Linked DNA regions of Homo sapiens. The protein of the gene in region 1 interacts with the protein of each later gene in a biochemical or structural test. Each region holds a gene or a part of one and is shown in the gene's direction. Other genes may lie near its edges. The genes, in order: SIRPA, CDK16, CCT6A, DDX10, KRT2, SOS1 and DDX6.

Region 1 (4,486 bases):
GGATGTACAGAGCCTCGGAATGGTGGCGGTGTTCGGGTTATCACTGAGCTCCTGCAGAAGTGTGGTTAGGAGAGTGTGGCCAGAGTCCAACTGCCTGGGCCACATCCCAGCTCTGCCACCTCCTGGCTCTGTGACCTGGGACAAGGCACTCCACCACCATGGGCCTCAGTGTCCTCACTTGTCAGTGATAACACCAACCTCACAGACCAGGAGTTGGGACCGAATGAGTTAAATCCTGTAGCGTGCTTAGGGCAGCAGGCGCCTGGCCTGCAGTCAATGTTCAACAGATGTGAGCTGTGTGATGCTGAAGCCATGCAACCTCAGATGGGTTAGTGCTCCTCCAGGCCTCAAGGATAAATGGTCCTTAGGATGTACTCAGGTAGTTTTCAATCTTGGCTGCTCTTTAGGATCATCTGGGAAACATTGAAATAAATCCCAGGCTCCACCACAGAAATGCCTCTTCAATTGGCCTGGCATGGGCCTAGGCATCTAAAGTTTTTAATTAATCCAGAAGATTCTAATACAGAGTCAGGACTGAAAACCCCTGGGATAGACACCCAGAGGTCACGGAGGACAAGTTGGAAAAGATGGTCCTCTTGGGGTGCCAGATGGGAGAACAGCTTTTCAGGGTGTGGATGCTTCTGAACAACGTGCACCCGGGACAGCTCTTTGGAGGCCCCAGTGGCCTGGCCAGACCCCCTCTTATGATACAGGCCTCGGGGGCCAAGGTAGGGGCCCCAGACAAAGCCCTGCTCAGATCCAGCCTCAGTGTGGGGAAACCTTCCATCCTGAAAATGTTTTTGTCTAAATGACCGCCGGAATCCCAGCAAATCCTTCCAATTCGGCCCCAGAACCCTCCCTGCCTCGACACACCAAGATGTCACGGAGGAGTCTGTTCCCTCCTCCTTTAAAATGCTTCCAGCTTCTGTAAATGGCTCTTCTGGAGGGAGGCGCCTGTGATCTTGTGTTTTGAAAGCCAATTCGCCAAACTTGTTTCCTGAGGGGATTGTTTAGAAAAGGGGAGAGAATCCTCACTTGGTGGTTTCTGCTCCTTGTATCATTTGGGTTTGTCATGAGCCACAGGGAGCAGGGTTTGAGCCTTTTCTTGGTGTTTCTGCTCTGCTTTGTTCTGCTGCCTGAAGGATAAATGTGTAGATTCGGAAGCAGTAATGACCAGACCTCCTGATAACAGTCACAGGGGTCATTTATTAAGCACCTGCTGCATACCAGGCTCTGTGCTTGCATTCATCCTCCCTCTTCTTAACAGGGTGGGGTTTGTATCCACTTTTGGCCCTGGGCCTCTCTGAGCTTTGTCCTAAAAGGGGCTCACACGAGGATCCCCTCACAGAGATGGAGTGAGGATTAAAGAGCTGACGGGCATGGAGGGAGCAGCCAGTGTCCAGCTCCAGAGAAGCCCTGGATAAATGGGAACTGATTGCAGCCCCTCAGCCCTGTGGGGACATCCAGGCCGCTGGCCTCAATGACTTGACTTCTTCAAGTGACACCCTCCTTACTGTGCCCTCAAAATGTTTGATGGGTGTGAGGGAGAAGTTAATATTTACAAATGCAAGTATGTGTGATATGTGCTTCCTGGTGACTGCGATAGGAGGTATGGGGTAATGATTAGCAATTTGGAGACACGTTTACGACCCATCTGCAGGGAGAAACAGCCCGCGTTCTGATTCAGCCATGTGTGTGCTTTCAGGACCCAGGAAGTGCTTCTGCCTGCTTGGGCGCCCTGTGTCTGTGTAATTAATTGATAATTAACCACTTTGGCTTTCTCCACACTTGGTGATCTTTAGTGTCTATCTAAAACTGACACCAAAGAAGACCGCAGATTCAGAAAAGTATCCCTTCCTTTCAAATTTAGCACTTGGCACAGATTAGACCCTGCTGGAATATTTGTGGAGAAAATGAAAAATATGAAGTAAATTCATAAATACCTGAAGAGAGAGCTTTGGATATGAATAAAGTCTGGGTTAAAGTTAGATCTGTTTTTGCTTATTTTTGTGAAGCATCTTCTGTGTTTATCCAAAGCAAAACTGCTTCTGTTGCCTCATTTAATCCTCGCTGCATCCCAGAAAGGAGAAATGCTGCTGTTCCATTTTACAGACAAGGAGCTGGGTGTGCCAGGCCGCCCCTCTCATGGGCTGAGCGGCCTGGTTCCAGCTCTCATGGTGATGCCACGTTGCTGCTTACTCCCTGCACTGACCTCTATAAACGCTCTCTCTGAGGTTGGCACTGTTGCCAGGGGAGGCAGGGTAGAAACAGTTAATACCAAGGATGAGATGGATCGTTAATTTTGATCCTGTGCCCAAATTGCTGGAAGTCACCCTGTGTGGAGTGGAGAAGTTTGAACTCAGGCCTGGACTTCCCTCTGGGCCCTGCCCCTACACTGTCTGACCTCACATGGGTCCTCACCTCTCCCAACCTTTGCATCCTGCTCTGTAAAATGACAATAAGGACACCGCCCTCATTAATCCTTCCACATTATTGGAAGGATAAAAAATAATGTCTCAGAAGGTTCTTAACGTGTCACACACTTATCGTTAGTGATTGTCATCTGAGTCATGTCTCCTGATTATCGATGGTCCTTTTGTAGCCAAACCCTCTGCCCCCGTGGTATCGGGCCCTGCGGCGAGGGCCACACCTCAGCACACAGTGAGCTTCACCTGCGAGTCCCACGGCTTCTCACCCAGAGACATCACCCTGAAATGGTTCAAAAATGGGAATGAGCTCTCAGACTTCCAGACCAACGTGGACCCCGTAGGAGAGAGCGTGTCCTACAGCATCCACAGCACAGCCAAGGTGGTGCTGACCCGCGAGGACGTTCACTCTCAAGTCATCTGCGAGGTGGCCCACGTCACCTTGCAGGGGGACCCTCTTCGTGGGACTGCCAACTTGTCTGAGACCATCCGAGGTAGAAGACCCTCACCCAGCCCAAGCCCACACCTGACCGCCAAGCCCACCCCCCACCACCCTCCACTCATCCAGCTCTACTCTTGCTCCAGGGCTTGAAATGCCTGGAACCTAAATTCCTAACTGCCCACCTCCCATGCCCCTAGATGTGCCAGCCACTTACTAACATTTTAATGGCAGTGGCTGGGTGACCACACCACCCACCAGGTGCCAAGGACTGTGCTAGCCGTTTCATTTATTTCACTGATAGCAAACACAGTTAATGAGTACCTACTATGAACTAAGCCTCTATGTGCTTGGTGATTTTCTTTATTTTGCTACAGTTACAACATTCCAACTGCATGCCAGGGGTGGTGCTTATAGATTTCCCTCATTCTTAGCCTAGTAGGAGCTACCAGTCCTTGAGCACCTACTGTGTGCTGGGCGTTGTGCTTAGTAATTTCATTCATATGCAAAGAGCACCCTCAATGTCTGAGCACCTGATGCCTGCCTAGCTCTGTCCTGGTGATGACCTCACCGTGGTGGGGGAGCTACGTTATGGAGCCCTCCCTGTGATCTGTCTGTGCCACAAGGTCAGAGCTTCTGCCCTGTGCTGTTTCAGTTCCACCCACCTTGGAGGTTACTCAACAGCCCGTGAGGGCAGAGAACCAGGTGAATGTCACCTGCCAGGTGAGGAAGTTCTACCCCCAGAGACTACAGCTGACCTGGTTGGAGAATGGAAACGTGTCCCGGACAGAAACGGCCTCAACCGTTACAGAGAACAAGGATGGTACCTACAACTGGATGAGCTGGCTCCTGGTGAATGTATCTGCCCACAGGGATGATGTGAAGCTCACCTGCCAGGTGGAGCATGACGGGCAGCCAGCGGTCAGCAAAAGCCATGACCTGAAGGTCTCAGCCCACCCGAAGGAGCAGGGCTCAAATACCGCCGCTGGTGAGGCCTCTATTTCAGCTGACCCAGCTTTTTTAAACTTTTAGTTTTGTGGGTTTTTTAAATGTTAAAAGTAGTAATTCATGCTTATTATAGAACAATCTAGAAGTCTATAAATATAAAGTAGAATTTTAATGTCAGCTCCATTTCCCCAAATCCCACACTCCAAGAGTCACCACTGGTAAGAGTTTGATGCACATCTTGATAGATCTTTTGACATAGATTTATATCACAGGAGGAAAGAGGGAGAGAGGGGGCCCATCTGTTCATGGTGTCCTGCCTCTTGCCTTCTTCACCTGACAGTTGTCATGCTCCCCATTCCTCACTGGCCCAGCCCCTCTTCCCTACTCTTTCTAGCCCCTGCCTCATCTCCCTGGCTGCCATTGGGAGCCTGCCCCACTGGAAGCCAGGGTGGAGTCATTCAGGGTGTTTGCAGCTTGTCTCACATACAGTCAGTGCTTCAGTGAACATCCTTGTGCATGTTCCATCCCACATGTGACTATTTCTGTGTGATTGCCCAAGGAACACTTTAGGCCAAAATGCATACTCATGTAAGGAGGAGATAATGCTGTCGCTCCCCTGAGAGAGTGTGAGGGTGTCAAGGTATCATTTTCTCAGCCCTTGCAACGTGGTGTT
Region 2 (3,500 bases), on another chromosome or scaffold:
TGGTTCTAAGACCCCCCAAAACACTCTGGCTTTCATGGGAATGCCTGTCACCCACATATCCAGGTAATAATCAGGGTAACCAGGAATCTGTTCCCATTTGGATAAAAGGTAGATGAATTGCAAACCAGGGTTTGGTTCTGAGAACACCCCTGAAAGTGCTCACCAGTTTATTTACTGTAACAATTTCTAGTCAGAATATCACATGGAATGAATTTGAATTGCACTGAAATTTAGTGTGCAAATTCGATTTCACGCGATGCTGCAGGCCTATGTACTGAGGGTTGGAGCCAGGCCCCTTCCCAGAAACCAAAAACAGGTTGTGAAAATCTAGTGTCACATGAGCCTGGGGCTGCAATCCCAGGTTCTTGCTCCATACTCTCCTCTGAGTCTTATTTTCCACATCTGCAACATGGAGACACAACTTTCTTCTGGCATGAGGCGGGTTAGAGCTGGTGGCTCCGAGGCATTACCCTGAACTGTCTAGAGAAAGAAAGAAAACCTGGGCTTGTCCCTTTCTAGTCCTTGTCCTCACCTCTGTCCTGAGGGTAGGACCCTGACTCTTCCCCTGTCCCACTCCCATGCTTCCTGCAGTGTCCCTGCTCAAGGACCTCAAACACGCCAACATCGTTACGCTACATGACATTATCCACACGGAGAAGTCCCTCACCCTTGTCTTTGAGTACCTGGTAAGGTTGAGTGGCAGTAGGTCCCAGGGGGAGGTGAGGAGAAGGCCAGGAGCCATAGGAAGTAACCCTCATTCCTGTACCACCTCTTCTTTCCTCAGGACAAGGACCTGAAGCAGTACCTGGATGACTGTGGGAACATCATCAACATGCACAACGTGAAAGTGGGTGTGGGGCAGGAAGCAGGGGCACAAGGGGGCCCCCACTCACCCACTCCAACCCACAAATCTCCCAGAAACGGACTTTTCCCTTTGGCTTTTTTTGCTAGGAGCCCTTGGAGGGCACTGGGACCCTGTCCTCTTTTGTGTGACAAGGCTCTGGGCCTAGTGTCTGTGTTTGGGAGGGGAGCAGTGCCTGCTGGGGGTCGGGCTAGTGGATAGTCTTTGACCTCTGCCTGCCATTCCTGGGTCCCCAGCTGTTCCTGTTCCAGCTGCTCCGTGGCCTGGCCTACTGCCACCGGCAGAAGGTGCTACACCGAGACCTCAAGCCCCAGAACCTGCTCATCAACGAGAGGGGAGAGCTCAAGCTGGCTGACTTTGGTACCACTGGCCTCCCCTTTCTTATTGGCTCCCCAGCCTCCTACTTTCCCATGACCACTTAGTCTCACTTCCCTTCAGCCTTGCCAGATTTTGCCTAGGACACCCTCAGTCTCAACTGCACTCTCCCCGAGACTTTGCCCATGACTCCCTCATTCTAGCTGTCCTTTCTCTGATTTCCAGGCCTGGCCCGAGCCAAGTCAATCCCAACAAAGACATACTCCAATGAGGTGGTGACACTGTGGTACCGGCCCCCTGACATCCTGCTTGGGTCCACGGACTACTCCACTCAGATTGACATGTGGTAAGGACAGGTGGAAGTGTGGCAGGGGCCATGTGGTAAAGGGGGTGGCTTGGTCACAACAGCCACCCAGCCAGCTGCCTTTCTATTCACTGTGCCCTCCCTGCCCAGGGGTGTGGGCTGCATCTTCTATGAGATGGCCACAGGCCGTCCCCTCTTTCCGGGCTCCACGGTGGAGGAACAGCTACACTTCATCTTCCGTATCTTAGGTGAGGAGGCATGGGCCCTAGGCGCTGTGGAGACACACGGGGAGGACCTGTGAAATGTTTGGGATAACTCCTCTTCCCTACTAGGAACCCCAACTGAGGAGACGTGGCCAGGCATCCTGTCCAACGAGGAGTTCAAGACATACAACTACCCCAAGTACCGAGCCGAGGCCCTTTTGAGCCACGCACCCCGGTGAGGCTGGTGGGTGGGTGGGCGTTAGGGGCCAGAGTGTCCAAACTCATTTTAAATCAGGTCTCTTTGTCCTTGTGGCAGACTTGATAGCGACGGGGCCGACCTCCTCACCAAGCTGTTGCAGGTGAGACCACCTTGGGTCAGCCTTGGGGGTATGGGATTCCAAGTGTGGGGAAACAGGGACCCCCCCCCTCAAACCAGGGGCAGGGTCTGAGGTGGGCAGAGAGACCTACTTGTTGAAGATATCAATACTATCCCCCTCCCCGCACCCCCACTCAGTTTGAGGGTCGAAATCGGATCTCCGCAGAGGATGCCATGAAACATCCATTCTTCCTCAGTCTGGGGGAGCGGATCCACAAACTTCCTGACAGTGAGTGGAGCTGGGGAATGGACCGGCCAGCGTGGGGACTGGGAAACAGGACTGCTGGGGCCAGCTGGCGGGTTGTGTAGGATTCTGGCTGTGCCACCTCTACGTGGGGGGACATCTTGTTCACGTGTGTGATGGGTTGTATTTGTTATGAAAACATTTTTTAGTTTTCAGTTCCTTTTACCTTTCATGAAAAATTTAAAACATACATAAAAATATATGCAATAGCACTTTACTTTTTTTAAAGTAGACATTTCCTTACATGTGCTAAAAAATGCACAAATCATAAGTATACTATACAATGAATTTTCATAAATGAAACACATCCTTGTAACTAGCACAAAAGTCAAGAAACAGAATGTTAAAAGCTCCCCACCCCCAGCTCCCTTGCATCTCCTTCAGTTATTCCCAGCCCCTTCCCAAAGGGTGGCCACTGTTTTGACCTCTAACAGCAAGGATAAGTTTTTTCTGTCCTTGTACTTTATAGAAATAGAATCACATGTGATGTTCTTTTTATATCTGGCTTTTAAAAACTTTTTAATATGGATATTTTCAAATATATGTATTTATATATTAGTCAAAGTAATATGATGAGTCCCTAAGTACTCCAGTGAGTCATCAATTCATGGTCAATCTGGTTTTATCTATATTCTCTCTGATTATTTTGAATCACATCCAATCCCAGACATCATAGCATTTATCCTTAAATAATTTCAGCATATACCTATAAAAGATTTTTTTAAAACAACAATATTATTATCAAACCTACAAAAAACATTTGCTCACTTTCCCTATCTTCCCACTGGATTAATATATAAAGCAAACCCCAAACACCACCCATCACCTAGACTTAACAGGTGGTAATTGCAATACCATAATTCACTTGACAAAGTTAATAATGATTTCTTTGTGTCATGTAATAGTCTATATTTCATCTTCCCTGGTTGTAGCTGGTTTGTGTATGGAATTGTTTGACAGATAAAGGTCAAGCCTCTCAGAGAAGGGGCAGCTTTTTCTAATTCTTCCCATGGGGTCATATGGGGCTGGTCCTAGATGACCTCATGGGTCATCCCCCACTTCTATGTCTCCCCCATCTGTAGCTACTTCCATATTTGCACTAAAGGAGATTCAGCTACAAAAGGAGGCCAGCCTTCGGTCTTCGTCGATGCCTGACTCAGGTAGGTATAGCCCCTTGTCTTCCTCCCTGCCCCACC
Region 3 (2,725 bases), on another chromosome or scaffold:
GGTTTTGACCTTCAGGAAACATTAGTTAAAATTCAAGCAGAACATTCAGAATCAGGTCAGCTTGTGGGTGTGGACCTGAACACAGGTAAGAGAATGCAACTGTTGTAGAGGGAAAACTAGATGTAATACGTGTGAGTTGAAGCCAGGAAAGATTAAAAATGTTTTGCTTTGCAATTTGACACCAGTGCTGTTAGGGAACTCTGGGTTCTAAAATGGGATAAAATAGGATATTAATAAAAAATGGAATGACTAGGTATAATTAAGGGACGAGTAGACATGAGTAATTTGGGGATACAATTTTGGAGATGTTGAGTGGTGGTAGATGGTTCAGATTAATGTTGAAGGATTTTCATATTGCATTTGCCTTACTCAGTTTTTAATCAAGTACTATGATAAGAAAATAGATGTGGTGATTATATTCATGGGTGAAAACCAGCTAAAGATAGCAATTAATGCCAGAAAAGGGGATGTAGAAATCTAGTGAAATGGTGACAGCCCTGATCTTAGGTTCCTGTAACAAAACAACACAAATTAAGTACAAAGTAGGAGATAACAGGTACCTCCATGCAGTATGTGCAAGACCTATTGTCAACATTAATAGAAAAGGTTTCTGGAATGAGGGAAATGATCAGTCCATTTTAGTCAGATTATAGTTGAAGTGCTATACTTCAGTATGAGTAAACAGAAATGTATCCAGAAGAAGAGAGGGGTGTTCAGGACTTCTAAGTATAAGTCAGACATTCATCAAATATTGTGGACGGGGGTCATGGTTTAGAGTAGAAAATTGGGCTAACAGAGAAGCTTTGAATTCTCATAGTTAATACTGGAGGAAATGAGTCATCAGTGATAAGCAAAGCTGCACACAATATTGTTGGTTCTTACTGACTGAACTTATTTTAAGATTTGGTTGCCTTTTAGGTGAGCCAATGGTGGCAGCAGAAGTAGGCGTATGGGATAACTATTGTGTAAAGAAACAGCTTCTTCACTCCTGGTAAGTTTGGGAAAATGAAAACTAAACTGTTAGAGAATCATACTTTTTTCATTTGGTGTTCTCTGTTTAGTTGCTCCTTTCCCCCATGAATAATGTGATCAGCTGGAAGTATGGAAACTGAACTAGCCCTCTGATGTGTAGAGGGGAAGGGGGAAATTTAATTGGATGTAATGTGTGCAGCTTGGTTGGAAGTGGGAAGTTGAGTCGAATTAGGGCTCCTAATCATCTGAGCCATCTTATTTTTGTCCCCCTTTCAGCACTGTGATTGCCACCAACATTCTCTTGGTTGATGAGATCATGCGAGCTGGAATGTCTTCTCTGAAAGGTTGAATTGAAGCTTCCTCTGTATCTGAATCTTGAAGACTGCAAAGTGATCCTGAGGATTACAGCTGTGGAATTTTTGTCCAAGCTTCAAATAATTTTGAAAGAAATTTTCCCATATGAAAAAAGGAGAGAACACTGGCATCTGTTGAAATTTGGAAGTTCTGAAATTATAGTATTTTTAAAAATTGCACTGAAGTGTATACACATAAAGCAGGTCTTTTATCCAGTGAACAGGATGTTTTGCTTTAGCAGCAGTGACATAAAATTCCATGTTAGATAAGCATATGTTACTTACCTTGTTATTAAATATTTCTTGAAAAGCAAATTTTAATGGTTTAATTTTATGTGGACGTATGTTAAATTATCCAACTACCCTATTGTTAAGCATTTGGTTTTAAAATTTTTATGCTAATATAAATGCTCAAGTAATTTAAAATATTGAAAGCATCCCTGTTGGTATAAATTTCTGAGTAAATGCATTGGATCAGTTGGACTTTGAACGCCTTTGAAATGGCTTTGCTAAAATGCTCCCGCCACAAAGTTGTAGGAAATGGGAAGAGGAGTCAACTAGAGGCAAGGGAGTTGAGAGAGCTGCAACTGTAAAGGGCAAGAACAGGCAGAGGTAAAAAGATGATGGAAGGTGTGGTGACTAAGGGCCACGGTTATTGGGTGAAATTTGAGATTGTAGGCCAACTGTATTTTCAAGCTTCTGAACTTAGGCAAAATATTCATCGCAAAGTCTCTAGCGTCATATTTTTCTCACCCAAATTACGTTTCCACGAGATTATTTATATATAGTTGGTCTATCTCTGCAGTCCTTGAAGGTGAAGTTGTGTGTTACTAGGCTGTGTTTTGGGATGTCAGCAGTGGCCTGAAGTGAGTTGTGCAATAAATGTTAAGTTGAAACCTCCTTTCTGTTCTTGCAATGGTATGACGCACAAAAGCAATCTTAAGGGGAATGAAAACTGTCCAAAGGTTCAGAAAAGTAGTGAAGGGGCCTCTGGAACGGCCGGGACCCTCAACGTGGTTTTCCTTAATTCCCTGGGCGGTCCTGAAGGTGGTGTGGCCAGTCCTCCGCCTCGCTCCGTCAGTTTCCCCCTGCTGAACTATTGGGTGCGGGGCGGGTGGTGGCGCAGCCTGCGCATGTGCATAGGGGTCGACTGCCGCTGCGGTGCATGAGGGCGCATGCGCAGCGGGGCCGTGGGTGTACGCGGCGCAGCGCGGCAGTCCTGATGGCCCGGCATGGGTTACCGCTGCTGCCCCTGCTGTCGCTCCTGGTCGGCGCGTGGCTCAAGCTAGGTCAGTGAACCGGCCGTCCATCCTGGGGGCGCTGGGAAGGGGATGGGGCGCTCCGCCCTGACGGGAGAGAGCCTTAGGCCCTTCTGCCGGCTTCCGGGATGCGGCTGCAGC
Region 4 (4,486 bases), on another chromosome or scaffold:
TATCTTTAGGAATGAGATTTTAACTTACGTTTATGACTTGTTGTTCCCCAATTACTTTTCTGGACTTAAAGATCTTGATTAGCAAATACATAAAGAAGTCAATATTTAGTTTTATTTTTCTTAATTGATAAATTATATTTCTGGTATGTAACATGTTTTGAAACAAATATACATTGTGTAATTGCTAAATGAAGCTAACTAGCATAGGTATTACCTCACATACTTGTGGTGAGAAATCTATTTTAGTTAAACTTTTTTTTTTTTAAAGTTTTTAGAATATTCCACAGTAGATTCTTCGGTAAAAGATGTGAAATTATTTTTCATTATGCTTTCCAATCTTTCTAATCTTTGAATTAACAGATATTTGAGTTCTTATCATTTTCACCTGTCCTTTATTGCCATTTATTGCATTTACAAGATCTTTGCATCTCCCATAGCATATCAGCAATGAGCCAGAGAGTAGGGATTCAGAGGTTGGATTCTATTTCAGCAGATAGATGAGGTGGGAGGAAGAATATAAAGAAGAGTTATAGAAAGGTCACCCTAAGTCGATAGGGTAGCCTGAGCAGAAAAACATTCAATAGTTAGGGTTTTATGTAATGGTTTTGAAACTGTTATTCCTGGCAAAGAAGTAAGTTTTTTTGTTTGTTTGTTTTTGATACGCAGTTTCGCTTTTATTATCCAGGCTGGAGTGCAATGGCGTGATCTTGGCTCATCGCAACCTCCGCCTCCCGGGTTCAGGTGATTCTCCTGCTTCAGCCTCCCGAGTAGCTGGGATTACAGGCATGCGCCACCACACCCGGCCAATTTTTTGTATTTTTAGTAGAGATAGGGTTTCACCATGTTGGCCAGGCTGGTCTCAAAACTCCTGGCCTCAAGTGATCCGCTTGCCTTGGCCTCCCAAAGTGCTGGTATTACAAGCGTGAACCACCACGCCCAGCCAGAAGTAAGTTTTATATAAAGAAGAGATCTTAAATTTTTTGCTAACTTATTTTATATTTTAGCAAATTATCATTGGTGTGCTTAGAATAACATTAATGATGAGGCTAAAATTTAAGTGCTTACTGTGTGCCAGGTACTTAGTTATGACAAAACTGTTTTACATGCGTTGTTACCTAATCTTCCAGACAACCAGTGAGGTAGGTGGTATTGATTTGACTGTACAAATGGGTAAATGCTAGCTTGAAAATTAAAAAATGTCTTGGATGGCTGGTTGGGGTGGCTCATGCCTATAATCCCAGCACTTTGGGAGGCTGAGGTGGGTGGATCACTTGAGGCTGGGAGTTTGAGACCAACCAGGCCAACAGGGTGAAACCCTGTCTCTACTAAAAACAATGACAAAAAAATTAGCTGGGTGTGGTGGTGCATGCCTGTAATGCCAGCTACTTGGGTGGCTGAGGCATGAGAATTCCTTGAACCCTGGAAGCAGAGGTTATAGTGAGCCAAGATTGTGCCATTGCACTGCAGCTGGCCTACAGAGCGAGGCTCTGTCTCAAAAAAAAAAAAAAATTGTCTAGAGTAACATAGTTATTAAGTGGAAGACCTGAGACTGAACTCCAGGTCTAGCTTTCTTGAGATCTACTGTGTTATATCAGGAGAAATTAATTCCAAAATATGAGAGCATCAAATGGTAAGCTATACCAAGTTGGACTTCTATAAGCTCACTTTACCTGAGAACCTTTTCATTAAAGGATCTTTGAACAAATGGTTAATATTCATTTTTCTTAAAAATGAATAGGCATGCAAACATGTACATTTTTTTTCTAGCAAACATCCTTCAAACTTGCAGTTGAAACCTAGGAGCTTTGGAAGTAGTACACACATTTAAAAATATTAGATTAATTTTGGTATGTCATGACTTACTGCATGCCTAAGAGGTCATTCAGTTATCTATCAGAAAATATGAAACATTGGAAAGATGTTTTTTCACTGGTTTGTGCATACAACGGATGAGCCTTCCAGAACACTGATTATAGAAAAGTGTGTTGAAATAAATGATGTGATTTATTGGTTGTCACGCATGGTTTAGCAGAATGGCCAACTGTGTTGCCAGCAGCAGCAAGCTATCTAGTTTCATAGAAGTGATTTTCTAGGTTTTGATTATAATCTGGATAGAACAAAAGTGATAAGCAACTGAGGTGATTGCTTGTGGATGATTGTAGGGGAAAAAATTATTTTTAAACTGGTGCCATTCATTGTTTTTTATGCCTATGGAGACAGAAAATGGTTTGGAGATTAGTTGGGTAGAAAGGATTAGTGTAAAGCTAGATAAAACATGAAGTTTAGGAAGTATGCAAACAGGAACTAAATATACTTTACAAAAGTCAACTTAAAAAATTACCTAGATGAGTTTTGTTATCTGTGTATTTGACAAACTGATAAAGGATCAGGACCCTGTTTATATTCTGGTTTGTGTAACTCTAGTATGAAGATAGTTTTTTTTTTTTTTTTTTTTAACAGAAACAAAATATTCCAAGTTAATGATGAATTACTTGAAATCATAAAAAAGAAAAGCTTTAGCAATAAAGTTTTTCCTGAAATGGTTTTATTAAATCTCAATATGTAAAATTTTATTTAATTGAAAACCTTATCTTTTGATACAATAATACAAAATATTATCAATAACTAGCATTTGTTGTTACTATATTCCAGAAAATATGCTAGGTATCTACATGCATTCTTCTAATTTTATTCTCATAACACTCTAAGTAGAAGGTAATGTATCCCTTTTTTGATAGATGAGGATACTGACATGTAGAGAAACAAGAAATTTGCTCAGTGAGTAAGAGTTTAAGCTTTGAATAGATTCCAAATCTATATTATTCCAAAGCCTATATTTTCCCCATGGTGTACCTTATTGTAATGGAATTATACTGACTTTTAGAGTAGCCTTTTGGAAAGAAGATATTCTGGGTTAGGTTGGCTTGAAACCAAATGCAAAGTTTTTTTCTAATATTACAGTTCTAAAAGGTAGGTTTTCATGTGTGCATGGAATGGAGATATACTGAACTATTTCGTGGTTTTTCAGTACTATTGAATTTATCCCATTGGCTAATTTTCTTATATTTTGGTCTAAACTCATTTTTAATTTCTATTATATTGTACTTTTCAACCTCTTAATTTACAGTGTTTCGTCTCCTATGTACGATCTGTATATCTGATGAAGGATAAAGAAGTATTTGATGTGAGCAAGTTACCTATACCTGAATATGCCCTGTAAGTATTCATAATATAGTTGTAATAGTGAATCCTCAAGGTTAGAGGGAATTAATTAATTAATTTAGAGATGGGGTCTTGCTATGTTGCCCAGGCTGTCTCAAACCCCTGTGCTCCAGCAGTCCACCCACCTCAACTTCCTGAAGTGTTAGGACTACAGGCGTAAGCCACCACACCCGGCCAGAGAGAATTTGTTTGAAACCTGGTTCTCTGAGATTCTTAGTTTAAGCCACTCTGCCTTACGTTAAAAGAATCTGTTTGTTAAAGATTCTCAGTGGAAAAGATGAAATTGACTTGGCAGAAAATTAGTTCAGTGTTCAGTTCTTGTTAATCAGGGAGCAGTTTATTATTTGTAAGTATAAATTCCTTAAAGTGACATTGGCCATTTCCTATAGTTTGATCTTAAAGGAGACAGAGAGCAACCAATAAGCATTCTTTGAAATCTTTAAGTGTCTATAGTTTTCTCGTTCTCTGAAACCCTTGCCTGGATTACCATAGACATTTTATGCTTTGAATGTGAGCCTCTTTGCTGATTCTTCTTATGTTAGGTTGTTTTCTTCAATTGCTTACTGCCTGAATATTCCTCCTGTCTTGGTGTTTCTTACAGGTACTCATAGTTACTATGGCAAGATGCTCCTTTTTAGTAACTGAGGTTACTATTGTATGAAACAGAATGGCTGGTTTTGTTTTGGCTTAGTATTTGAGGGATTTTTTGCGGGGGAGGAGACAGGGTCTTATTCTGTCACCCAGGCCATAGTGCAGTGGTGTGATCATGGCTCACTGCATCCTTGACCTCCCAGGCTTAGGTGATCCTCTCATCTCAGCCTCCTGAGTAGCTGGGACTACAGGTGCATGCTACCATGGCTGGCTAGTTTTTTTGTAATTTTTGTAGAGATAGGGTTTCGCCATGTTGCCCAGGCTGGTTTCAAACTCCTGGGCTCAAGTGATCCCCCCACCTCAGCCTTCCAAAGTGCTGGCATTACAGGTGTGAGCCACTGTGCCTGGCCGGGTTTTTTTTTTTTTTTTAAACCTTTTGACCTATAAAGAAGGAATGTTTATTCTTCAGTGGGCTCTTACTGTGGGAGTGGTAAAAACATTGGCACAATCTTATAGAAGCACCTTTGAGATAATCATACTTTGAATATCAGCATGAAATTTCCCAGACTATGGTGAAATATGTGATTACAAGGCAAGGTCTGTATGTTTGGCTTGCTCTTAGGAATTTGAGTGCCTTTACCTTTAAACTGAGTCTAACTACAACATATATCTA
Region 5 (3,563 bases), on another chromosome or scaffold:
AGAGAATGGGGCAGGCCCTCCTGACAACTGAGAACTGACATTCTCTGTGTTCCCCAAGCAGAAACTCAGGACATAAAGCATGATTGGAGAGTTACACATTTATCAACATGAAATGATGCATAAGGCACATTAAATTAAACTAAGCAGTAAGTTAAACATCCTGGTCTTTTCTGAAAGAGAAAACAAAATCATGGGAAAACAGGTTAGTCCTAGACAGTCTGAAACTTTGGTCTCTAGGTCCATAGGGTGAGTGGCTTCTGTGCCCTCCACCGGGTGACCCAGAATGGGGGAGATGATGTCTCGGAATGTGCTGACTGGTGGGGACGTGCTGACCGGAGCAGGTGCCAGCCCCAGTTCTTTGCAGGTTTCTGGAGTGACAAATGGAACCATTTGCTAACTTTCAAAGAGGCACCCTTTGCTTCCTCTGTAGTCTGAGACCTTTGTCCGTATTATCAGCATCTTGGGTGACTTAATCTGGCTGAAGCAATTGGAAGGGGAAAAGCTACCCCAGGCCATCAGCAAGCCAGCATGACAAACAGGGAGTGGCTTTCTTCAGGAGGTTGCTCTGTCCCTGTCTAGAGGCAATGCCTCCTATGCCCAGCTTGTAAGAGGAAGTGGGAAAGTTTTCAGTTGAAGCTGAAGAGGGTGGGAAGAAGAGAGGAATGGGGAGGCTCTACAGAGTCACAGTTCTTTCTGAACTGAATGTTCACAGGCAGCCTCATTGTATAATTTCTGATGTGGCATGGATTCTGAATAACAGACTCTCCAAGATGGATTTAAATACACAAATGGGTTGCAAAGTAGGAAGTGAATTTGCTTTTCAGTGACCTTGGATCAACCACGCAACTGTTCATTTTTTATCAGAGCAAAAATTGAGAGGGATTGACATGCAAGGTTGTGCATAAATGGAAGGGGGTCTGTCGTCATTGTGTGACCTGGCAGCATAGAAGAAAGTGGGGTGTGTAAGCCCTGGTGGCTGCTTAGAGAGGCTAAACTGCACATTTGCGGGTGGAAGTGGTAAAACAACATGCATACAGAACCTAAGTGTTCCACCACAACTTGTTTTTTCTCTCTCCCTTACAGGATGTCTGGAGACCTCAGCAGCAATGTGACTGTGTGTAAGTAATGGGGTGTGGTCCTGTTCCATGGGGTGTTGTGTCAGGTGGAGGCAGGGAGAGGCAGTCATAATCTCTGTGGTAACACCACCTCTCTCTGCAGCTGTGACAAGCAGCACCATTTCATCAAATGTGGCATCCAAGGCTGCCTTTGGAGGTTCTGGAGGTAGAGGGTCCAGTTCCGGAGGAGGATACAGCTCTGGAAGCAGCAGTTATGGCTCTGGAGGCCGACAGTCTGGCTCCAGAGGCGGTAGTGGAGGAGGAGGTTCTATCTCTGGAGGAGGATATGGCTCTGGCGGTGGTTCTGGAGGAAGATACGGATCTGGTGGTGGCTCTAAGGGAGGGTCCATCTCTGGAGGAGGATATGGCTCTGGAGGTGGAAAACACAGCTCTGGAGGTGGCTCTAGAGGAGGCTCCAGCTCTGGAGGAGGATATGGCTCTGGAGGTGGGGGTTCTAGCTCTGTAAAGGGTAGCTCAGGTGAAGCTTTTGGTTCCAGCGTGACCTTCTCTTTTAGATAAAGATGAGCCCCCACCACCACCGACTCTCCCAACCCAGACTCTCCCACTCCAGAATGTAGAAGCCTGTCTCTGTACCTCTAACTGGCAGCAAGTTAAATTTTTGTCATTTATCTCTGATGGCACTTTGAGGGAAAAGAATGTCCACATACAGTTTTTGAAAGATCTTCTCTCCAAACCAGTTAGTTAGAGCCAGTGACGCCTCTGTGTTCTGGGGCGGAATCTGTGCTGTCTAGGTTTGTGCTTCTAGCCATGCCCATTCCCGCCCCCACCATGCCTCTTTGCATTGCCCATTTTCCAGATGTGTATTCTGTTGAGGACCCAGGCCCATCCAGGGATTTCATCTCTAAGCCTGGCAGTGCTGGGGGGAAATGTGTTTCTGTGTATATAGCTCCTCTTGTCCACTCTGCTTTCGGAAGTGCTGTGGTCTGGGGGTCTTCATAATAAACCTCATTTGCAATTCATATCATGTGCTGTCTGCGTGATGTCAAACCTTGGTGGAAGTGGGCAGCCATGGACAAGGGAGGTTTGGGCATTAAGGAGGGGCTCCTGGGTGAGGAGCGTGCCTCCCTGAGGGAAGCCCAGGCGCCAGCCTCTGGATGAATGGGAGCCTGGGGATGGGTGTGTGGTTCTCAGAAAGTATTTACCAGACTTGAGGGCCATGGCATTGCCGGGAGGTGGACAGGTAGATTTGTGGAAGAGTCTCTTTTCTAGAAAAACCCATTCTTCCTGAGCATTTCCCACAGACTGCCCTCTCCCTTTTCCACAAAGGCTTTGGCCCGGGATCACTTCTCCTCAGGGCAAAACCGCTGAGCCCCTGGCACCATCGTGGTGAGTTTCCAAGCTCCGAGCTTCCAAGGCAGACCTTCCTCAGCCTGATGTAGGTCCTGGCCTCTGTCTCTGCGGGGGCTCTGAGCAAGCCTGGAGGAGGATACCTGGGAAGAGTCTGGAGGACTCTAAAGTGGCCTCCAAAACAGCCACTTCTATTTTCACAGGACACCCCTCCTGTCAGCGGAGTCCCACCACACTCAGCAAACAAGCCCTTCTCTCCTCTCTCACCGCAGCCCCCGGGGCCTGTCGCATGGATGTTGCCATCAGGTTGGCCTTCTCCTGTGGGTGTGAAGATGCCTTCAGCCCCTTCCTCAGGAAGGCCATGTCACCTGAGCAGGGCTTCCAGGGAGTTCAGGAATGGTTGGGCAGGTGGGATTGGGCATGCTTGGGGTTGGTGTTAGACAGGCCAGAGTTGCCCAAATGGGAGTTGGTGGCTCAGGCTAGGTCAGCTTAGCTTTCTGTATGTGGCGTTTGGTTATAGTAGCTGTGGCTTAAAGCCACTCAGAACCACTCCTGGAGGGTCCTTTTTTCTCCCACTCCACCCCAGCTTTAAAACCTTGGAGAGTCCTTAGTTGAGTCTGTGACCGTCTTCCTGTTCCCAGAGGTTGCAGGGACGGCTCTAATAGAGAACAGATGCATTCACTTGCCTCCAGACCAGCCAGGACCCAGGTATGAGGGTGCTGCAGGAACAGCTCTGAAGGCTGCAGGTGGCAAGGTGGCAAGACTCCAGGCTGAGCATTCTAAAGTGATCCGCTGATCAGAGAAGGTCCCTGAGAACCACCCAGGCCTCAGTCGTGGGGAGAGGTCTGTGGGGAGAGGGTGCAGGTTGGGAAGAAGTGGTGTGAGGAGCTGGCTGTTTTCGGGTATGTACATAGTGTAGACATGAACACAACCTTTAACAGGGACTTGGTCCCAGACATTTGAGGCTGGACAGGAGCTTTGGTAATCAGTGTATTTGAACTTTTCACTTAGGTGAGGAAAAAGGTAAGGCCCAGGGTGGACACAGAAACCAGGTCTCCCACTCCCAATTTATTCATTTTTTAAAAGGCTTTGGGAATAGCAATCCATTCTAATAACTTTCTGAGGGGAAAAGAGGTGAGG
Region 6 (4,486 bases), on another chromosome or scaffold:
CCAACATGGCAAAACCCTGTCTCTACTAAAAATACAAAAATTTTCTGGGTGTGGTAACACGCAGCTGTAATCCCAGCTACTCTGGAGGCTGAGGTAGGAGAATCGCTTGAACCTGGGAGGTGTGGAGGTTGCAGTGAGCTAAGATTGTGCCACTGCACTCCAGCCTGGGAGACAGAACAAGACTCCATCTCAAAAAAAAAAAAAAAATAATAATATGATTCCCTAGATGAGTTTAAGTACAATCTCATATGGTAATATAATCTCAGGATTTAGTACTTTTTTTAAAACTATTCAAATAAACTGCCTTTGTACAAATGTAATTGTTACTATTGCACATTATTATTAAATAGGCACTCATGAAAAGCATGGTATTGAATATCACTGGTAACAAGAGGATGCTGCTTTGTTGAGTCTCATTTACATACTAATTGCCACTGCTTTGTCTCTGTAGCCACAATAAGCCACCCTTTTGATGGTAGTTAGCTTGAATTATATTGCACCAGTGCCAAGTTTAAATTAGCTATGTTAAGTAAAAGAAGCAAAAAGTGGTAGAAGAAAGGTCATTTATTACACTGAAATTTATTTTAGAGGCTTGCCTAATGCTATAAAGGTAAAAATGACATTTTAAAAGTATTTCATCAGGAAAGTTTTATGGGTTTGAAATGTACTTTGGGTTTGTGGCTTTTAAAATATTAACATTTTTGAGATACCAGAATATTCTGTATGTAAAATGCTACAGTTAAATAGTAGATAAATGATTCCAAAACTTGAAACATTTTTAGGATAGAAAATCAAAGGATGTCCAAGTGGATTTTTTCTTTTATAAATATTTTTATGTGTATGAGAATTATATATTTTGTCTACCATTAGGTATGTTTTCCTGAATTAAAAATATAAAAAATGTATCCAGGACAAAATATCAAATGCTCAATATTCTGCTACCTGTTAGTTATTTAAGACCGAAAAATTGCCTTGTATCTTACTGACTTGAATTTCTCTGGGCTTTGCTTTTGAGTGATTAAATTCTCAATCAACTCAGTGAACTAATTCATCGTTCAGTGGTGCTTTCATTAAATTTGCCTTAAGGTATACAGCAAGCTTGTCTAACCCCCGGCCCAACACAAATTTGTAAACTTTCTTAAAACATTATGAGATTTTTTTGCAATTTTTAAAAAGCTCATCAGCTCTCGTTAGTGTTAGTATATTTTATGTGTGGCCCAAGATAATAATTCTTCCAGTTTGGCCCAGGGAAGCCAAAATATTGGATACCCCTGGTATATAGCTTTCAATGTTAGATTATCTGCTGCTTTAAAGACTAAACTTGATAATGTTTAATGGTAACATTTTATTTGTCTCCCAGAATTCTGCCATGTGAGAGGCAAATAGTTTCAAATGATAGGGATGGAAGGTACTTTGAGAGATTACCTGGATTCCAGCCTTCAGCCTACTAGTAATATCTGTTAAGTAAAAACCTAGTATCTTTCTTTATGAACCCTGGCCATTGGCTTTCTTTAATCTAGCTGGCCATATTGAAGAACAATATTATGAATAAAAGATATTTGATTTTTGTATTAATATGTACACTTTTAAAGTCTCTTATCCTTTGGAAAATATCTTTCGTTACCCTTTTTATGTTGAGAATTGTTAGGAATAAATTTTTCTGTTTTTTTTTTTTTTTTTTTTGAGACGGAGTCTCACTCTGTTGCCCAGGCTGGAGTGCAGTGGCACGATCACGGCTCACTGCAACCTCTGACCCCTGAGTTCAGGCGATTCTTCTGCCTCAGCCTCCCGAGTAGCTGGGACTACAGGCGTGTGCCACCACACCCAGCTAATTTTTGTATTTTTAGTAGAGACGGGGTTTTACCATATTGGCCAGGCTGGTCTCAAACTCCTGACCTCGTGATCCCCCCGCCTCAGCCTCCCAAAGTGCTGGGATTACAGGCATGAACCACCGTGCCCAGCCTAAATTTTTCTTTTACTTAACACAGTTAAGACTGAAAATTTTCCTAAAAATGTAGATTATGCCTCTAGTAGAAAGTATGGTGAGTTTTTAATAATGAATATAAGAAATCTGGATAATAAAAGCTAAGTATTAAACATTACAATATGGTATTCATTACTTCTAGAATATTTGACCATTAAAGTATTTTAAGTAAATTTTAATAAAAATGGTTTAGAATATAAGTAAGAAATCTGTTTACTTTTCACAGGTCATCAGTGCATGTGGTATGTGCATGCGCATGCATGTAACTGATTTTTATCAATTGAAGCAGAAAGGAATGTGTTGTTGACCTTTAAGGAATACCTGTGAAAAACACAAAATCCTTAAAGTACTAATGTACTAATGAATACTTAAGCTAATTGAAAAGTAAACTTCTAGCCAGGCATGGTGGCTTACGCCTGTAATCCCAGCACTTTGGGAGGCCGAAGCAGGCAGATCACTTGAGGTCAGGAGTTTGAGACCAGCCTGGCTAACATGGTGAAAACTTGTCTCTACTAGAAGTAAAAAAAAAAAAAAAAATCAGTCAGGTGTGGTGACAGACACCCGTAATCGCAGCTACTCGGGAGGCTGAGGCAGGAGAACTACTTGAAGCTGGGAGGCAGAGGTTGCAGTGAGCTGAGATTGCACCGCTGCACCCTAGCCTGGGGTACAGAGCAAGACTCCATCTAAAAAAAAAAAAGAAAAATAAACTTCTTTATAAATCACTTTGAATATTTCATGATTGTGTATCTCAAGTCTTTTCATTCATGGTAGAGAGTAGGTATTCCTAAATTGTTGGATGAAAACTCTATTGATAAAATGTTATTTTATTTTATTTTAATAGACGGTATCTCAAACTCGTAGGCTTAAGCGATCCTCCCACCTGGGCCTCCCAAAGTGCTGAGATTATAGGCATAGGCCATTGCAGCCAGCCAATATGTGATTTCTTAACTTTTCCTTTTGGTAACCAGGAACAGGTTTAAGATGTATGAGTGAATTATTGTGACTCATACATCTGTTAAGTGCTTGCTTGAATCATAGCCACCTTACTGTATTGACAATTAGTTACTGATGACTTAGTTCTTGTTAAGTAGAGACGTTCTGTCTGACACAGATATTTGCCAGTAATAGAAAATATGCTTGAGTTTCAGTTTCATAAATATGTATATTATAGCTTCACTCAAAATCTTAATGTGGATATGGACAAAGTTCTTTATTATACTAATGTTAATTCTGTAGTATAATTACAAAGAAAACCATTTACACTTACATTGTGTGTTACCATTTACAAAGTGCTTTGGTTTTTAATAACAACCCCTAAAAGTAGGCAGGGTAGGCTTTTTATAAGCCTTATTTGGCAAATGGGAAAAGTAAGACTCAGAGATCAAGTGACTTGCCCCAAGGTCACACAGAAGTAGAGTCAAAATTTGATCCTAGATTTTGTAATTGAGATTCCTTCTACTATATTGCATCGTTCTCTGTATATTTATCTTCCTTATCATCTCAATATTATATAACAATAATATAGGGGTCAGAAACCTAAGACCAAATTCCACACTTAAAAAAAAAAAAACCTCGTCTACATGCTTAGTGGTATGCTAACTCTATGATAATTCAGTAGATCGATTATGCTCCCCATTTCTTTTCAGTGGTATGCACCTTGAAAAACTACATATTACTGCCTGTCACAAGATATAACCCATCTTAACACTGCTAATCTTGGTCTTTTAATGTAGAAAACTTGGTTGTGTATTAATAGTAACACACAAGAAAAACACTTTTAAAAAGAATATTTGATGACACATTTAAAATTTTTATTGTGACAGTTGAATAAATGTTATTTTTATCCTTAAATGAGTTTATTATTATTTTATCCAAAAATGTACTACTGGTTCAGATTTGTCATTTTGGCTTTACAGCAGTTAGAAGAAAAAAGTGAAGATCAAGAAGACAAGGAATGTTTAAAACAAGCAATAACAGCTTTGCTTAATGTTCAGAGTGGTATGGAAAAAATATGTTCTAAAAGTCTTGCAAAACGAAGACTGAGGTGAATATTTTTACTTTTTAAAATATCCTTTTTTCCCTGAATATTGTGGTGTAAATTCAGGGATCCCAGTTCCCTCCTCAAGTAAACAATGAAGAAAATAGTTTTAGTGACAAGCCTGGTCTTTTAGAGGAAGTGACATCAAAGCCAAGAGAATTGTTATTGTTTGAAAAACCTTTCATATTTGTGCATTTTCCTTGCATACTCCCAGACAAGACCTCCTGAGAGTCAACTGGTAAGCTGAAGGAGAGACAGAGTAAAATGTATCGGGTAGATTTATGTTGGCATCGTTATTCTGTCAAAGTAAAATTATTAGTGTCCTTTATTTTAGGGATTATATAACTTGAGGCATTAATTCAGATAACATTGCTTCCACTTTCCTGATTATAATATGTGCTACATGTTTTTAGCTTTGGGTCTTGTCCATTTAAACTCTTCTAAATAATTTATTTTAATCTTTC
Region 7 (4,486 bases), on another chromosome or scaffold:
TACATTCTTTGTATTGCATAGGTTTTTAAAAAATTATCTTGTTTGATCCTTTTAACAATACTCGGCTCACTGCTCTAGATTAGAGGCATTGCTCTTATGTCAGAAGTCTGGTGTGCCTTCTGCTATTAATTGAGAATTATCCTAAGACAAGAAAGTATGCCTACTGTTGAAAGCAGCAGGTGATTTAGGAAGCTGTACCCCACCCAATGTAGAGGTGAAACAAATATTTTTTAAGCATCCTGTGGTGAAATGGAAGTCTTTATCCTAAAACACATCTTTGTGCCTTTTTGTGTTATTTCCACCTCTATAACACAATGTGTTTCTTCTCTTTCTTTCTTTTTTTTTTTTTTTTTAATTTGAGACACAGTCTTACTCTGTTGCTCTGGCTAGAGTGCAGTGGTGTGATCTCGGCTCACTGCAACGTCTGCCTCCTGGGTTCAAGCGATTCTCCTACCTCAGCCTCCTGAGTAGCTGGGATTACAGGCTCCCACCACCACACCCAGCTAATTTTTGTATTTTTAGTAGAGACAGGGTTTCACCGTGTTGGCCAGGCTGGTCTCGAACTCCTGACCTCATGTGATCCACCCACCTCGGCCTCCCAAAGTACTGGGATTACAGGGATGAGCTACTGCACCCGGCCTAGTTGTTTCTAATAAAAGATAGTCATGTGCTGCATACAATGTTGTGGTCAGTGACGGCTGCACGTATGTCGGTGTTCCCATAAGATTATAATGGAGCTATACAATGGAGTAGGCTATACCATCACATAGCAATGCATTTCTCAGAATTATCATTAAGCAGCTCAGGACTGTAATATTATAAACCTTTATCCTCTTTGCTCAAATTAAAATTAATGAGAATGTATGTTTTCTAAATCTTGCATAGTGCACGTGGTGATTGCTACCCCTGGGAGAATCCTGGATCTTATTAAGAAAGGAGTAGCAAAGGTTGATCATGTCCAGATGATAGTATTGGATGAGGTAATGTCTCTTCATTTGGCATTATACTGTTCTGTACTTTTCTGTGCTTTGCTTATAACTGCCAGTGAATGAAGCAAAAGCTGCTTGTGTTTATGATCTAATAAACACATAAACAATCAGTTTAAATTAATTTGCTTATAAAATGTGTTTTACCCGTCAGAGGGAGTAGATTATAGGCATTCATTGGAATTCAGCATTTTGTCTTTTTCTTAGAGATAGCAGACATTAGGTTTTAATTTTTTAGTAGAGGAGTGAATAACCTCAATGCCAAATTTATTCTAAGTCTCTTTCTGCTCTGTGATTAATTTTTAAAAGCATATAATATATATTGTCTCTTCTCATTTTGTGCATACTACTTTGTACTGTTTGGTTTTTAATCTCTGTTACATGTATTATCTCACCATGTTATAAATGCCTTTTAAAAACTTATTAAAATCTGTAGTCCTGGGATCTAGCCATGTTTTGTACATGTACAGATGGTCCCTGACTTAAGATGGTTCACTTTACAGTTTTTCAGTGGAAGTGATAAGCTTTCATTAGAAACTGTACTTTGAATTTTTAAGATTGATATTTTTCCTGGTTAGTAATATGCTATATGATACTCCCATGATGCTGGGCATCAGCAGCAAACTGCAGCTCCCAGTCAGCCACATGATGATTGAGGGCAGACAGCCGATACTCTACAGTATACGGCGTTGCAGGTGATTTTGCCCAACTGTAAGCTAAGGTAAGTGGAGCATGTTTAAAGGAGGCTAGGCTGAGCGATGATGTTCAGTAGGTTTGGGTAATATTTTCAACTTAGGATGAATTTATCAGAACATAATCCCATTGTAAGTCAAGGAGGATCTATAGTGATCAGCGTTGTTAATGTTTTGACATGAGGTTATTTTCACATTTGGGTTGAGGTTTATTATTATTATTATTATTTTTTTTTTTTTGAGACAGACTCACTCTGTCACCCAGACTGGAGTGCAGTGGCGTGATCTCGGCTCACTACAACCTCTGCCTCCCCGCTTCAAGTGATTCTTATGCCTCAGCCTTCTGAGTAGCTGAGATTACAATTATGTACCACCCACGCTCAGCTAATTCTTGTATTTTTAGTAGAGGCGCGGTTTTGCAATGTTGGCCAGGCTAGTCTCGAACTCCTGACCTCAGGTGATCCTACTGCCTCAGCCTCCCAAATTGCTGGGATTACAGGCATGAGCCACCACGCCCGGCCTGGTTTGTGTTTTAGGTAACATGATTTAATTCAAATCAGACTTTTATCTTTAAGTAATGAGAGAGAACATTTATTAATCACTGGGTACCAGCACTAAGTGCTTTACATGGTTTGTTTTTTTTTTTTTTTTTCCATTTAATTTTTACAAGAAACCTATAAGGTAGGTATCCTGTCAAGTAGTTACTATAGTATGTAGACATCCAACTTCTAATTTGCTTATAAAATACGTTTTATACTTCAGATGCAATAGATAGGCATTCATAGGAATTCAGCTTTTTGTCTTATAGATGCCAGAGTTTAGGTTTAATTTTTAAGAAGAGGAGTGGCTGGATAACTTGAAAGTCAAGTTTTTTCTTTTTTGTTTTGTTTTGTTTTGTTTTTGAGACAGAGTCTCGTTGCCCCGCTTGGAGTGCAGTGGTGCGATCTCAGCTCACCGCAACCTCCACCTCCCAAGTTCAAGCGATTCTCCTGCCTCAGCCCTCCCGAGTAGCTGGGATTACAGGCATGTGCCACCATGCCGGGCTAATTTTGTACTTTTAGCAGAGACAGGGTTTCTCCATGTTGGTCAGGCTGGTCTCAAACTCCCGACCTCAAGTGATCTGCCCACCTAAGCCTCCCAGAGTGCTGGGATTACAGGCGTGAGCCACCACACCTGGCCTTAGCCAAGTTTTTTCTAAATCCCGGTAAAGTAGTTACTACATTATGTAAACATCCAAATTTTAATAGTTTTACAATTTTAGAGTTGTGGAAACTGAAGTACAGAGTAGTTCTGTAACATTCCCACACAGCTGAGAAATGAAGGAGGCAAGATTTCAACCTGGCAGTTTAGCTCCAGAACCTGTACTTTTTTTTGAGACAGAGTCTTGCTCTGTTGCCCAGGCTGGAGTGCAGTGGTGCGATCTCAGCTCAACTGCAACCTCCATCTCCCAGGTTCAAGCAGTTCTTCTGCCTCAGCCTCCTGAGTAGTTGGAATTACAGGCGCTTGCCACTGTGCACAGCTAATTTTTGTATTTTTAGTAGAGACAGGGTTTCACCATATCAACCAGTCTTGTCTTGAACTCCTGACCTCAGGTGATCCGCCCGCCTGGTCCTCCCAAAGTGCTGGGATTACAGGCGTGAGCCACTGCACCCGGCCTCAGAACCCTTACTTTTTTTTTTTTTTTTTTTTTGAGACGGAGTAGTCTCGCCCTGTCGCCTAGGCTGGAGTGCAGTGGTGTGATCTTGGCTCACTGCAGCGTCCGCCTCCCAAGTTCAAGCGATTCTCCTGCCCCAGCCTCCCGAGTACCTGGGATTATAGGTGCGTACCACCACGTCCAGCTAATTTTTGTATTTTTAGTAGAGATGGGGTTTCACCATGTTGGTCAGGCTGGTCTCAAACTCTTGACCTCGTGATTCTCCCGCCTCGGCCTCCCAAAGTGCTGGGATTACAGGCGTGAGCCACCGCGCCCGGCCAGAACCCGTACTTTTAAACACTACACCATACTACCTCTTTAATGAGAATCATCACATTAAAATTCTGTTGTGGAGCTGGGCATGGAGGTATGTGCCTGTAGTCCTAGCTACTCAGTAGGCTCAGGCAAGAGGATCACTTGAGCCCAGGAAGTTCAGGCTGCAGTGAGATACGATTATGCCACTGCACTCCAGCTGGGTGACAGAGTGAAATGCTGTCTCTAAAAATAAATAAATTAATTAAATTCTGTTACAGAAAGCGGGGGAGGTTGTCTGTGTAGTGTAGAATTTTTTTTTTCCCCTAGAAGATGGGGATTATAGATTTTGCCCCCTTCTGCATATTTGACTCTCTGCAGTGTTGGAGAGAATTTATTGTTTTCCACCAGGAACATTTCATGGATGCTTTTGTTGGATGATGCCTTATTCTTTGACCATGTATTAACCAAGACCTTAGACATTATTTTATTGTTTTTAAAATTGTCTTTTCTTTCTACTGCAGGCAGATAAGTTGCTGTCACAGGATTTTGTGCAGATAATGGAGGATATTATTCTCACGCTACCTAAAAACAGGCAGATTTTACTATATTCCGCTACTTTCCCTCTTAGTGTACAGAAGTTCATGGTGAGTATAAATCTGTACTTGGAATCAGTGCCATCCTGTGACCTTTGAGTATGCTTTTATTTGTAATTACATCTTCATATCTGTGAATATACTTTATGCTAATTATTTCAAGCCTTTGGCTCTTTCTTCAGTTGATCAATTAAAGATTTGTTTTACGTAAATTAACTGACTTTTTAAGAAGGTTGTAATAGTAACTTAATTAAATTCCTCATCTTT

The links.
Region 2: the proteins of SIRPA (region 1) and CDK16 form a complex in vitro, tested with the Homo sapiens proteins (one large-scale study listed by BioGRID).
Region 3: the proteins of SIRPA (region 1) and CCT6A form a complex in vitro, tested with the Homo sapiens proteins (one large-scale study listed by BioGRID).
Region 4: the proteins of SIRPA (region 1) and DDX10 form a complex in vitro, tested with the Homo sapiens proteins (one large-scale study listed by BioGRID).
Region 5: the proteins of SIRPA (region 1) and KRT2 form a complex in vitro, tested with the Homo sapiens proteins (one large-scale study listed by BioGRID).
Region 6: the proteins of SIRPA (region 1) and SOS1 form a complex in vitro, tested with the Homo sapiens proteins (one large-scale study listed by BioGRID).
Region 7: the proteins of SIRPA (region 1) and DDX6 form a complex in vitro, tested with the Homo sapiens proteins (one large-scale study listed by BioGRID).

Annotation. Positions count from the first base shown.
Region 1 is NC_000020.11:1,918,793-1,923,278, forward strand, and holds part of SIRPA (tyrosine-protein phosphatase non-receptor type substrate 1 isoform 1 precursor), read left to right. Parts: intron 1-2,602; coding exon 2,603-2,920; intron 2,921-3,520; coding exon 3,521-3,853; intron 3,854-4,486. UniProt on the Homo sapiens protein: Immunoglobulin-like cell surface receptor for CD47. Acts as docking protein and induces translocation of PTPN6, PTPN11 and other binding partners from the cytosol to the plasma membrane.
Region 2 is NC_000023.11:47,225,181-47,228,680, forward strand, and holds part of CDK16 (cyclin-dependent kinase 16), read left to right. Parts: intron 1-591; coding exon 592-686; intron 687-784; coding exon 785-847; intron 848-1,098; coding exon 1,099-1,222; intron 1,223-1,402; coding exon 1,403-1,523; intron 1,524-1,631; coding exon 1,632-1,729; intron 1,730-1,813; coding exon 1,814-1,919; intron 1,920-2,000; coding exon 2,001-2,043; intron 2,044-2,198; coding exon 2,199-2,289; intron 2,290-3,386; coding exon 3,387-3,464; intron 3,465-3,500. UniProt on the Homo sapiens protein: Protein kinase that plays a role in vesicle-mediated transport processes and exocytosis. Regulates GH1 release by brain neurons. Phosphorylates NSF, and thereby regulates NSF oligomerization. Required for normal spermatogenesis.
Region 3 is NC_000007.14:56,061,765-56,064,489, forward strand, and holds the end of CCT6A (T-complex protein 1 subunit zeta), read left to right. Parts: coding exon 1-85; intron 86-918; coding exon 919-991; intron 992-1,248; coding exon 1,249-1,321; 3' UTR 1,322-2,225; downstream 2,226-2,725. Other genes in the region: SUMF2 (inactive C-alpha-formylglycine-generating enzyme 2 isoform i precursor), read left to right, coding at 2,548-2,614. UniProt on the Homo sapiens protein: Component of the chaperonin-containing T-complex (TRiC), a molecular chaperone complex that assists the folding of actin, tubulin and other proteins upon ATP hydrolysis.
Region 4 is NC_000011.10:108,716,670-108,721,155, forward strand, and holds part of DDX10 (probable ATP-dependent RNA helicase DDX10), read left to right. Parts: intron 1-3,127; coding exon 3,128-3,216; intron 3,217-4,486. UniProt on the Homo sapiens protein: Putative ATP-dependent RNA helicase that plays various role in innate immunity or inflammation. Plays a role in the enhancement of AIM2-induced inflammasome activation by interacting with AIM2 and stabilizing its protein level.
Region 5 is NC_000012.12:52,643,090-52,646,652, reverse strand, and holds the end of KRT2 (keratin, type II cytoskeletal 2 epidermal), read left to right. Parts: intron 1-1,083; coding exon 1,084-1,118; intron 1,119-1,218; coding exon 1,219-1,634; 3' UTR 1,635-2,095; downstream 2,096-3,563.
Region 6 is NC_000002.12:39,023,552-39,028,037, reverse strand, and holds part of SOS1 (son of sevenless homolog 1), read left to right. Parts: intron 1-3,900; coding exon 3,901-4,028; intron 4,029-4,486.
Region 7 is NC_000011.10:118,759,706-118,764,191, reverse strand, and holds part of DDX6 (probable ATP-dependent RNA helicase DDX6), read left to right. Parts: intron 1-885; coding exon 886-980; intron 981-4,147; coding exon 4,148-4,270; intron 4,271-4,486.